Linked DNA regions of Homo sapiens: region 2 is linked to region 1. A link means that fine-mapping ties the variant in region 1 to the expression of a gene that starts in the linked region. Tissue or cell type: putamen. Region 1 holds a variant in brackets; the other region holds the start of a gene. All regions are shown on one strand. Distances are from middle to middle.

Region 1 (5,427 bases):
ATTTCACTGTTCTGGGCTGAGTGCCAAGAACACATGAATGAATCAGACTTGGCGTGCGCCCTGGAAGACACCCCGGCCTGTGGAGAGACTGCCAGGGCCTCAAATCACTTAGGAAAGGGCGCGGGTCCGGTTGGACCTTGAAGGACAGGCAGGCGAGGGTACTCCAGGGAACAGCTAAGCAAAGGCGGCGAAGACCCCGGGGGAAGAGGTCTAGACTGGCTTGGATTCAGGGTCCACCTGGGTGGGAGGTGAGGCAGCAGAATGGGCAGGTCAGACCCTGAAGGGTCTCCAGTGTCAGTTTTATCCTTAAGGCCTGGGAGATGCAGAATAGTCTGAGACAGAACTATGTTTAAAACCCTCGAAGGCCGCGTTGGAGAAGGGAATCCGCTCCAGGGTCGAAAATTTAAACACACGTGGGCGGAGTCTTGCGCGCGCCAAAGAGGAACATTGGGCGACGGGCGCGGCCTGGAGAGCGCATGCGCATTCGGAAGGGTCGGCAGTTCCCCAGTGGGCAGAGTGGGTGGATGGGAAGGTTCTAGCTTTTTATTTGAAATTTTATTTATTTTTATTTTATTTATTTATTTAGAGACGGAGTCTCGCCCTGTCACCCAGGCTGGCGTGCAGTGGCGAGATCTCGGATCACTGCCGTCTCCACCTCCTGAAATTCAAGCGATTCTCCTGCCTCAGCCTCCCAAATAGCTGGGATTACAGGCGTCCACCACGCCTGGCTAATTTTTTGTATTTTTAGTAGAGACTGGGTTTTGCCATGTTGGCCAGGCTGGTCTCGAACTCCTGACCTCAAGTGATCCGCCCGCCTCGGCCTCCTAAAGTGCTAGGATGACAGGCGTGAGCCACCGTGGCTGGTCTAAAAAAAAGTTTTTTAAAATTATATTTGAACAGGTATTACATGTACATACACAATTCAAACCTCTCTGGCTGTATACAATAAAAGTAAGTTTCCACCTCTGGTTCCCATTTTCCTTTCCTAAAGCACTGGTTCCCGGTTTCCTTCTGGAGCTGCTGTTATAATAAAGCATTGGAGTTAAGAGCATGTGTTGAGTTCATATAAATAGCGGCTGAGCTTGACCAAGTGACTTAATACTCTCTACTTCTACGTCCCTGTTTGTGAATTGGGTGTGGTATAACCTTACTTACAACATTGCCGCCAGCATTAAATGGGTGAGAGTGCATAGAACAGTGCCTGTTGCCTAATGGTACTGTGTGTTGTCTCTGTGTATTATTTTGTGGTCTACCATGCTGATAGTTGTAGATTCTGAGCAGCCCTCTCCCCTCCAGGCCTCATCCCTACTGTCATTGTCCCAGTACCAGTACCAGGTGGAGCCACCTCTCCAGGCTGCCACAGGTAGAAACACCAGTCACCCAGAATGACTTGAGTCCACTGTTGATGGATTCTGGGGAAAGATTCTGGGTGTTTGATAAAGATACACATGACAGGCCATCTCTGTATTATGTCTATCAGTGTCCAATTTTACTTCTTCAGCTCAGGCCATATCTGAATTTCTCAACCCCAGATCACTCACGATTGCCAGTTTCACGTCAGGGCAACCCTCAGAGGTAGAATTTTCTTAAAAGAGGGAAAGAGGAGGCCTGGCATTGACCTTGGACCCACTGTGTACCAGGCTGTGTGCTCTCTGCTTTATATACATCACTATAATCTTCTCCCCTAATTTGTTTAACAGATGTTGGTCCGCGCAGTGACTCACGCTTGTAATCTCAGCACTTTGGGAGGCCGAGGCAGGCAGATCACCTGAGGTCAGGAGTTCAAGACCAGCCTGGCCAACATAGCGAAACCCCATCTCTACTAAAAGTACAAAAATTAGCCGGGTGTGGTGGCATGCGCCTGTAATGCCAGCTGCTCGGGAGGCCGAGGCACGAGAATCACTTGAACCCAGGAGGTGGAGGTTGCAGTGAGCTGATATCGCACCACTGCACTCCAGCCTGGGTGACAGAGTAAGGCTCTGTCTCAAAAAAAAAAAAAAAAAAAAAAAAAAACAGATGTAGACAAATGAGCCTGGAAGAGAGAAGGGCCTTACCGAAGTCCCCA[T/A]AGGCAGGAAGCAGCAGGGCCTGGATTCAAACCCGGGCCTGGATTCAAACCCAAGCCTGTCTCACTCCAGAGCAAGCCTACACTTTTTCCCTGGCACCGGGGAGCCAGCCTGGTGATGAGTCAGCAGTACAGTCAGGCACCCAGTGAGCTGCCTTTTGTATTAGTGGCATGGTATGCTGTTCTGGAGATATATCATACTTTAACACTTTCTCTGTTGATGAGCATTTAGACTGTTGCTGAACTTCTGCTCTTACAAACATTTACTGCAGGGGTTTGTGTGTATGTTTCTGTTTTCTAATTTTTTCTTTTTCAGACATGTTCTTGCTGTCTCGCCCAGGCTGGAGTCATGTAATACAGTTGTGGCTCACTGCAGCCTCAACCTCCTGGGCTTAAGCAATCCTCCCACCTCAGCCTGAGGAGTAGCTGGGACCACAGGCATGTGCTACCACACCCAGCTAATTTTCTATTTTTTGTAGAGACGGGGTTTCACTATGTTGCCCAGGCTGTCTCAAACTCCTGGCTCAAGCAGTCCTCCTGCCTCAGCCTCCCAAAGTGCTGAGATTATGCTACAGTTAATATCCTGGTACACGTGGCTGCATGTATATGTTAGTATTGTCAGTAGACTATCTCATTTGAAGTGCAAGTAGAATTGCTGGGTCAAAGGGTATGCACATTGGGAATTTTGAGAGCCATTGCCAAATGATCTGTTCATGTCTTTATTTTTTGTTTTTGAGACAGGGTCTCCCTCTGTCACCCAGGCTGGAGTACAGTGGCATGATCATAGCTCACTGCAGCCTCAGCTTCCCAGGTTCAAGCAATTCTCCTGTCTCAGCCTCCCGAGTAGCTGAGACTACAGGCATGTGCCACCACACCCGGCTAATTTTTGTATTTCTTGTAGAGACAGAGTTTCACCATGTTGCCGAGGCTGGCCTCAATCAATCCTTCCACCTCAGCTTCCCAAAGTGCTGGGACTACAGGTGTGAGCCACTGCGCCTGGCCCTGTTCATCTCTTTTTCACTTTTTGTTCATTTCTTTCATTTATATGTTGAATGAATTATGGAACTCTAGTCATCTGCCAGGCACAGCTGTAGGCTGGAGATCCTGTAATGAATAGGAAAAGCACCTGCCCTTTGGGAGCAGATATTCTAGTGGGGCAGATGACATCAGATAAAGGATGCTTGGAAGAAAAGAAAATCGGGGGTGAGGATTGGGAAGACATTGCAAAGGATACAAAATTTCATTTAGACAGGAGGAATAAATTCAAGAGATCCAGTCCACAACATGGTAACTATAGTTAGTAACAATGTATACTTGAAAATTGCTAAGAGGATAAATTTTCAGTGTCCTCACCACAAAAATGATAAATATGTGAAATAATGCATATGTTAATTAGCTTGATTTAGCCATTGTACAATGTATAAATATACAAAACATGTTGTACACCATAAATATATACAATTTTTATTTTTCAATTAAAAATAAAGTCAGGTGCCGGGCGCAGTGGCTCACGCCTGTAATCCCAGCACTTTGGGAGGCCGAGGCGGGCAGATCATAAGGTCAGGAGATCGAGACCATCCTGGCTAACATGGTGAAACCCCGTCTCTACTAAAAATACAAAAAATTAGCCAAGCGTGGTGGCGGGCGCCTGTAGTCCCAGCTACTCCGGAGGCTGAGGCAGGAGAATGACATGAACCTGGGAGGCGGAGCTTGCAGTGAGCCAAGATCGCACCACTGCACTCCAGCCTGGGCAACAGAGCGAGACTCTGTCTCAAAAAAAAAAAAAAAAGTCAGGTTACAGGAATTGACAGTGATAGAGGTCACAGAGAGTGACAGGTGGCCAGGGAAGGCCGCTTTGAGGGGATGACATTTGATCAGAGGCCTGAATGCAGTTAAGGAAGGTCAGGAAATGAGCCATCTAAAGATGCTGAAGAACGGCCAGTAAAAGACCCCAAAGTGGGAGTGGGCCTGGCTGTCCAAGGATGGTCAAGGTGGCCAGAGTGGCTGAAACAGAGCAAGGGAGGGAAAGAAGGGCAGGATTATTTAGAGACGGAGCTGTAGACAGGGCCAGTTTACATAAAGTCTTACAGGCCATGGTAAGCATTTGGAATTTACTTCCAAATGTAACAAAGCCATTGCAGGGCTACAAACAAGCACCGGCTTGTTCCAATTAATGTTTACAAAGACTTCTCCAGTGAACAACAAAAATTAACAGTGATTGCCTATAGGGATGAGGGTTATAGACAGATGTGGGTCAGGGCTATGGGAACTTAAAAAGCGTTGTTGTTTTTTTAAACCACGTAATTATTAGCTATGCGCAAAAATGTTCAGTGAAAACAGTGCTGGTTGCTGTGAGGAGAATGGCCTGCAGGGGCGGAAGCAGGAGATGAGAAAGCTGGTGTCCTTGCCTGGGCAAGAAAGGATAGTGGTTCTGGAAGAGGGTGGTGCTAATAGATGAGTTGAGAAGGGTCAGGAACTGGGATCTTTTTTGAAGGTAGCGCCAAGAAATTAAACATGGGGTGTGAGAGGAAGCATGAATCAGGGGTGACTTGAAAGTCATCCTAGAGATCTGTTGTACAACAGGGTGACTCTCATTCATAACAATGTGTTATATGCTTGAAACTTACTAAAATAATAGATTTTAAGTTTTCTCACACCACAAAAAAATAAGTATGTGAAATAATGCATATGTTAATTAGCTTGATTTAGCCATTCCACAATGTGTACATATATTAAAACATCATGTTATTTGCAGCATTAAAAAAAGTTCTAGCGGGGAGGGGGGAGGGATAGCATTAGGAGATATACCTAATGCTAAATGACGAGTTAATGGGTGCAGCACACCAGCATGGCACATGTATACATATGTAACAAACCTGCACATTGTGCACATGTACCCTAAAACTTAAAGTATAATAATAATTAAAAAAAAAAAGTTCGAGAGGTTTTGGTCCTGGCCAACTGCCTGAAGACTGAGACTTTTTTTTTTTTTTTTTTTTTTTTTTTTTTGAGATGGAGTCTTGCTCTGTCGCCCAGGCTGGAGTACAGTGGCGTGATCTCGGCTCACTGCAAGCTCCGCTTCCTGGGTTCATGCCATTCTCCTGCCTCAGCCTCCCGAGTAGCTGGGACTACAGGTGCCCACCACCACGCCCGGCTAATTTTTTTGTATTTTTAGTAGAGTCGGGGTTTCACCATGTTAGCCAGGATGGTCTCGATCTCCTGACCTCGTGATCCACCCGCCTCAGCCTCCCAAAGTGCTGAGATTACAGGCGTGAGCCACCACGCCCGGCCTAAGACTGAGGCTTTTTACCGGGATGAGGAAAAGTACTTTTGATGGGAAATCAACAAGCTTTGAAATTCTTAAC
Region 2 (5,427 bases), 970 kb after region 1:
TGGGAAGGCAGACTTGTCCCCAGGTAATAATAGCCCAGCAGTGTTCACAGCCTGGGATGGAGGAGCCCAGGAGGCTGCAGGAGCTCAGAGCGCATGCCTGACCCAGCCTGGGGTCAAGGAGGGCTTCCTGGAGGAAGGGACAGCTCATCTGATACCTAGAGGATGAGTGGGAGTTACTAGGTGTAAATAGTGCAGGGAGAGGGAAGAGTATGTGCAAAAGCCTAGGGTTGAGAGGAAACCTAGGGGCTCCAGCAAGGCGCAGTGGCTCATGCCTGTATTCCCAGCACTCTGGGAGGCCGAGGCGGGCGGATCATCTGAGGTCAGGAGTTCAAGACCAGCCTGGCCAACATGGTGAAACCCTGTCTCTATTAAAATACAAAAATTAGCCAGGCGTGGTGGCGTGCACCCATAATCCTAGCTACCTGGCAGGCTGAGGCACGAGAATTGCCTGAACTTGGGAGGTAGAGATTGCAGTGAGCCAAGATCACGCCACTGCACTGGCGACGAAGTCAGATTCCATCCCTCTCTCTCAAAAAAAAAAAAAGCTGGGGGGAGCCTAGGGGCTTCTAAATCCGATCGTGTCCTGGCCCTGATTAAACTCTCCTACAGCTGCCCTGGCAAACTCTTTAGCTTGGCATTCATTCATTCATTCATTCATTCACTCATTCATTCCATAAACATTCCCTGGAGTGCATTGTCAGTGTCAGGCCCCAGGGGAACACAGCAGTGACCACGACAGCCCCACCAGACCATGACCCTGACCAGGGGGCTCACGAGGGCGGAGACATCTACTCCAAGACCTGAAGGAGGAGTAGGAGAGATGCTGGGGAAGAGGCAGGGAAGGGTGTTCCTGGCAGAGGGAACAGCCTGTGCGAAGGCCTGAAGGTAAGTTTTGCATATGACACCTTTGAGAAACTACTTATTGTTCAACTGAAGCATAGGGTTGTTCAGAAGAAGCCAGCCTTGTGGCCGGGTGTGGACTTCCTCCCAGGGCACCAGGGAGCCACTGCAGAGTTGTGAGCAAGGGACAGACAGAGGTAGGCTTGTACTTCCAAGAGACTCCCCCAGCTGCCACATGCAGGGTGAATGGAATGATGCACAGAATCCAGTTTCAGGGGTAGTTTGGTACTTGGACCCAGGTCCCAGGGAGAGAGTCCAAGGAGCCCTTCTCTGGTCTTCCAAGGAGCTGCTCTCCCCAAGCTCCGGATGGAAGGCGTGCCCATGGCAACCGCTAGGTGGTGCCCGTACACCACCAGCCAGGTCTTTTTTTGCCAAAAGTAGATCAGGCCCAGAGCTGGGCAGAACTGCCCCTGGGTCAGGAGAGCAAATCGTCTCTGTCTTTTGGTCCTGGCTCCCTGGCCAGGCATCCTGGGGCCATTTGACTCCCAGGCTCAGGAAGGAGCTGGCTGAGCTGCAGTGAGTATGTTCTTCGTCTCTTTCCTCACCTTGGAATCTCAGACGGGAGCACCCTGGCTCCCACTTCAGACAGGAAGATTCTTACCTCCCTCATCAGACTAGCAGGCTCTTTGTCTCCCCACCAGTTTGAGGGGCTCCCCATTTCTATCATTCATTTGGAAGCTCATCAGCTCTCCCAGAAGGCATGGGAGCCCTTCAACACCCCCATCAGACTAGGACTACCCATCTCCCCCATCAAATTAGAACTGCATTGTCTCACACATCAAAGTATCACTCCTGGCCAGGTGCAGTGGCTCCCGCCTGTAATCCAAGCACTTTGGGAGGCCGAGGCAGGAGGATCACCTGAGGTCAGAAATTCAAGACAAACCTGGCCAACACGGTGAAACCCGGTCTCTACTAAAAATAACAAATTAGCCAGGCGTGGTGGTGTGCGTCTGTAATCCCAGCTACTCAGGAGGCTGAGGCAGGAGAATCGCTTGAACCCAGGAGGCACAGGTTGCAGTGAGCCAAGATCACACCACTGCACTCCAGCCTGGGCGACAGAGCGAGACTCTGACTCACAAAAATAAATACATTGTCTTACACATCAGAATGTTGCTCCTTACCTCCCCTGGCAGACTGGAAATATAGACTGGACACTCGTTCTTGCTGCACAGGACTGGAGCTTCTTATCTTCTTCATTGGATTTGGACAGTCCTGTCTCCCTCATGGGATTTGGTGAGAGCTCCTTAGTTTCCTTATTTTTCCCACTGTGTTGGGCCACCTTGTCCCCACCATCAGATTGGGGAACACCTTGTCTCCCAGTCAGACCAGAGGGGCGGACTCCTCTGCCCTTGCAAAGGTTCCTAGGTCCTTCTTACATCCATAGGAGGAACCATGCCTATTTTACCAAGAGGGAAACTGAGGCACAGAGAAACAAAGCACCACTTCTCTGTCCAGCTGCAGATGCCTCCACCTCCCCCTCCGCCCGCTCCTCTGCCCCTGCCCTCCCCCGCCCCCGCCCCTGACCTGGGTAACTCCCCTGGCACCGGGAGTAGGGGAATTTTGCCCTGCTGGCCTCTGCACCAACCACCTCCCCTTATCGGCAGCGTCGCCACCAGTGGCGGCCCAGGGTTAAAGTCCGGAGAGAGCTCCGGGCGCGAAGCGGATAGGGAGGGAGGAGTGGCGCCCAACCCAGAACGGGGACTCCCCGGAGGTCGAGCCCTCACGCTGCTGGGAGGAGAGGGGATGGGCAGGGCCGTGTCCCATGGTAAGGTGTGGGTTCAATCCTTCCTTTCTAGTTCCCGGCTGTGTGGTCTTGAACCTGGAACTTCACCCCAACTGGGAGCCTCAGCTTCTCCAGCTTTAAGGAGTCAGGGGCGTGAAAATGTCCAAGCTCTGGAGTCAGACTCCAGGAGTTTGAATGCTGGCTCCTATAACCTGCTGTGTGAGATCTGGGGCCAGCGAGTGTGTCTCTCTCAGCCTCAGTTTCCCCAGCTGTGCAATGAGGATACCTAGTGGGTGGTGGTGAACGCTCCATGAGTTTACGCACAAGAAAACCTTGGGACAGTGGCTGATAGTGGCGCCAGCAAGCCAGCATGCACCCCACCCTTTCCTTCCAAGAAAATTGCCTCCTAAATCTATGATTGGTAACCTTCACCCCTCCCTCTTTGACCCACCTCCTAACCCAGGCCACCTGGTGTCTTGCTGCACAGCTGGTCTCCCTGCCCGCACCACACCCAGAGGCGTCCTTGGAAACCCAACCCTGACCCCTGGTCAGAATCTGCCATGGCTCCCCAGTGCCCCCAGGAGAAAGCCAAGTGCTGTGCCACAGCCACAGCCTGACCACTCACTGCTTGTATTTTTTTTTCTTTTTCTTTCTTTTCTTTTCTTTTTCTTTTTTTTTTTTTTTTTTTAAGACAGGGTCTTGCTCTGGCCCCAGGCTGGAATGCAGTGGTGCCATCATAGCTCACTGCAGCCTCAACCTCCTGGGCTCAAGCAATCCTCCCACCTCAGTCTCCTGAGTAGCTGAGACTACAGGCACATGCCACCACACCTGGGTAAATTTTTAAATTTTTTTTTTAGCGATAGGGTCTCACTCATTGCCCAGGCTGGTCTTAAACTCCTGGGCTCAAGCGATCCTCCCGCCTCAGCCTCCCAAAATGCTTGGACTACAGGTATGCACCACCGCGCCCAGCCTCCTTTCTGGTTTTCTAATAAAGCCTTTTGTTCACCTCCTTCAAACACTTCCCCATGCTCTTCAGGTCTCAGCTCAAACAGGCCAGGCCCGGTCCCCTGGGTCCTCTCTGTCCTCCGTCTCCTGGTTCCCTGTACCTCTCCAAAAGCCCCCACGACCAAAAGAAGTAAAGATGTAGGGCCGGGCGCGGTGGCCTACACCTGTATTTCCCAGCACTCTGGGAGGCTGAGGTAAGTGGATCACCTGAGGTCACGAGAACCGATTGAACCCCAGAGGCAGAGGTTGCAGTGAGCCGAGATTGCGCCACTGTACTCCAGCCTGGGCGACACAGAGAGACTCAACCTCAAAAAAAAAAAAAAAAAATGGTGGCTGGGCAAGGTGGCTTATGCCTGTAATCCCAGCACTCTGAGAGGCCAAGGCAGGCAGATCACTTGAGCCCAGGAGTTCGAGACCAGCCTGGGCAACATGGTGAAAACCCGTCTCTACAAAAAATACAAAACTTAGCTGGGTGTGGTGGCATGCGCCTGTAATCCCAGCTACTCAGGAGGCTGAGGCATGAGAATCGCTTGAATCCGGGAGGTGGAGGCTGCAGTGAGCCAAGATCATGCGACTGCACTCCAGCCTGGGTGACAGTGCAAGACTCTGTCTCAAAAAAAAAAAAAAGTTCCCACTCTGGTCCAGCCACCATCACTGAAGGCCCGGACCATGCAGTCACCTCCTCATGGGACTCCCTGCCTGGGTCCTTGCTGCACCTCCACAAGGACCTGTCTTTCCCCCACATGCAGCCACAGGGATCCTGTTAACACCTAAGTCATCAGAAGGCTGAGGCGGGAGGATCGCTTGAGCCCAGGAGGTCGAGGCTATAGTAAGCCAAGATGGCACCACTGTACTCCAGCCTGGGCAACACAGTGAGACCCTGTCTCTAAACAGTAATAATAATAACAAATTAAATTAAATTAAAACCTGGCCTGGGCATGGTGGCTCATGCCTGTAATTCCAGCACTTTGGGAGGCCGAGGCAGATAGAGTACCTGAGGTCAGGAGTTGGCCAACATGGTACCTGACCAACGTGGTGAAACCCTGTCTCTATTTTAAAAATATAAAAATTAGCTGGGCCTGGTGGCACATGCCTGTAATTCCAGCTACTCAGGAGGCTGAGGCAGGAGAATCGCTTGAACCTGGGAGGCGGAGGTTGCAGTGAGCCCAGATGGCATCACTACACTCCAGCCTGGGCGACAGAGCGAGACTCCATCTCGAAAAAAAATAAAAAATGAAGTCAGATTATCCCTCCCCTGCCCAGAACCCTCCATGGCTCCCATCTCCCTCTGAGTAAAAGCCTATGTCCCTACAGTGGCTCATAAGATCCTGAGCCATCTCCTTGCCACCCTTCCCCTCTCCCCATCCTCCCACTCTCCCCCAGCTCATCCTGCTCCAGCTACACTGGCCTCCAACAGCTGTTCCGACCCACCTCTGGGCCTTGGCACTTGCTGTTCCCTCTGCCTAGAATACTCTTCCCCCAGATGTCCACATGGTTCATTCCCTCCCCTCACTCAAGTCTTAGCCCCAAACGTCATTCCTTGGAGGGCCTCCCTTGGCCACCAGATTTAAACAACAGCTTCCACTTCCTATGCTCCATCTCCCTCATTCCCTCACCAGTTTTATTTTTCTCCATAGCAAATACATACCATTGGCTGTATTTTCCTTGTCTTGTTGACTGTCTCCTGGATGGATGGACGAGTCTGTGGCTCCCCAAGGGCAGGAATCTTAGTTGTTCAACACCAGGGCAGGGCCTGGAAAACCTGTTAGCAGAGTGAATGAATTGTGTGTGTGTTTTGA

Evidence for each region. PIP is the estimated chance that this variant, and not a neighbour inherited with it, causes the effect.
Region 2: CEACAM16-AS1 starts here. The variant in region 1 is fine-mapped to the expression of CEACAM16-AS1 in putamen (GTEx, PIP 0.96).

The regions. Positions count from the first base shown.
Region 1 is chr19:43,755,222-43,760,648 of GRCh38, forward strand. No RefSeq gene overlaps it. Among named protein-coding and RNA genes, the nearest start is that of SMG9, 3.0 kb to the left of the region's middle. The variant T/A (reference allele first, on the strand shown) is at 2,066.
Region 2 is chr19:44,722,816-44,728,242 of GRCh38, forward strand. CEACAM16-AS1 (CEACAM16, CEACAM19 and PVR antisense RNA 1) reads right to left here and starts at 2,368. Exons shown (of 2, transcript NR_186815.1): 1 at 2,022-2,368. RefSeq lists an enhancer at 1-6.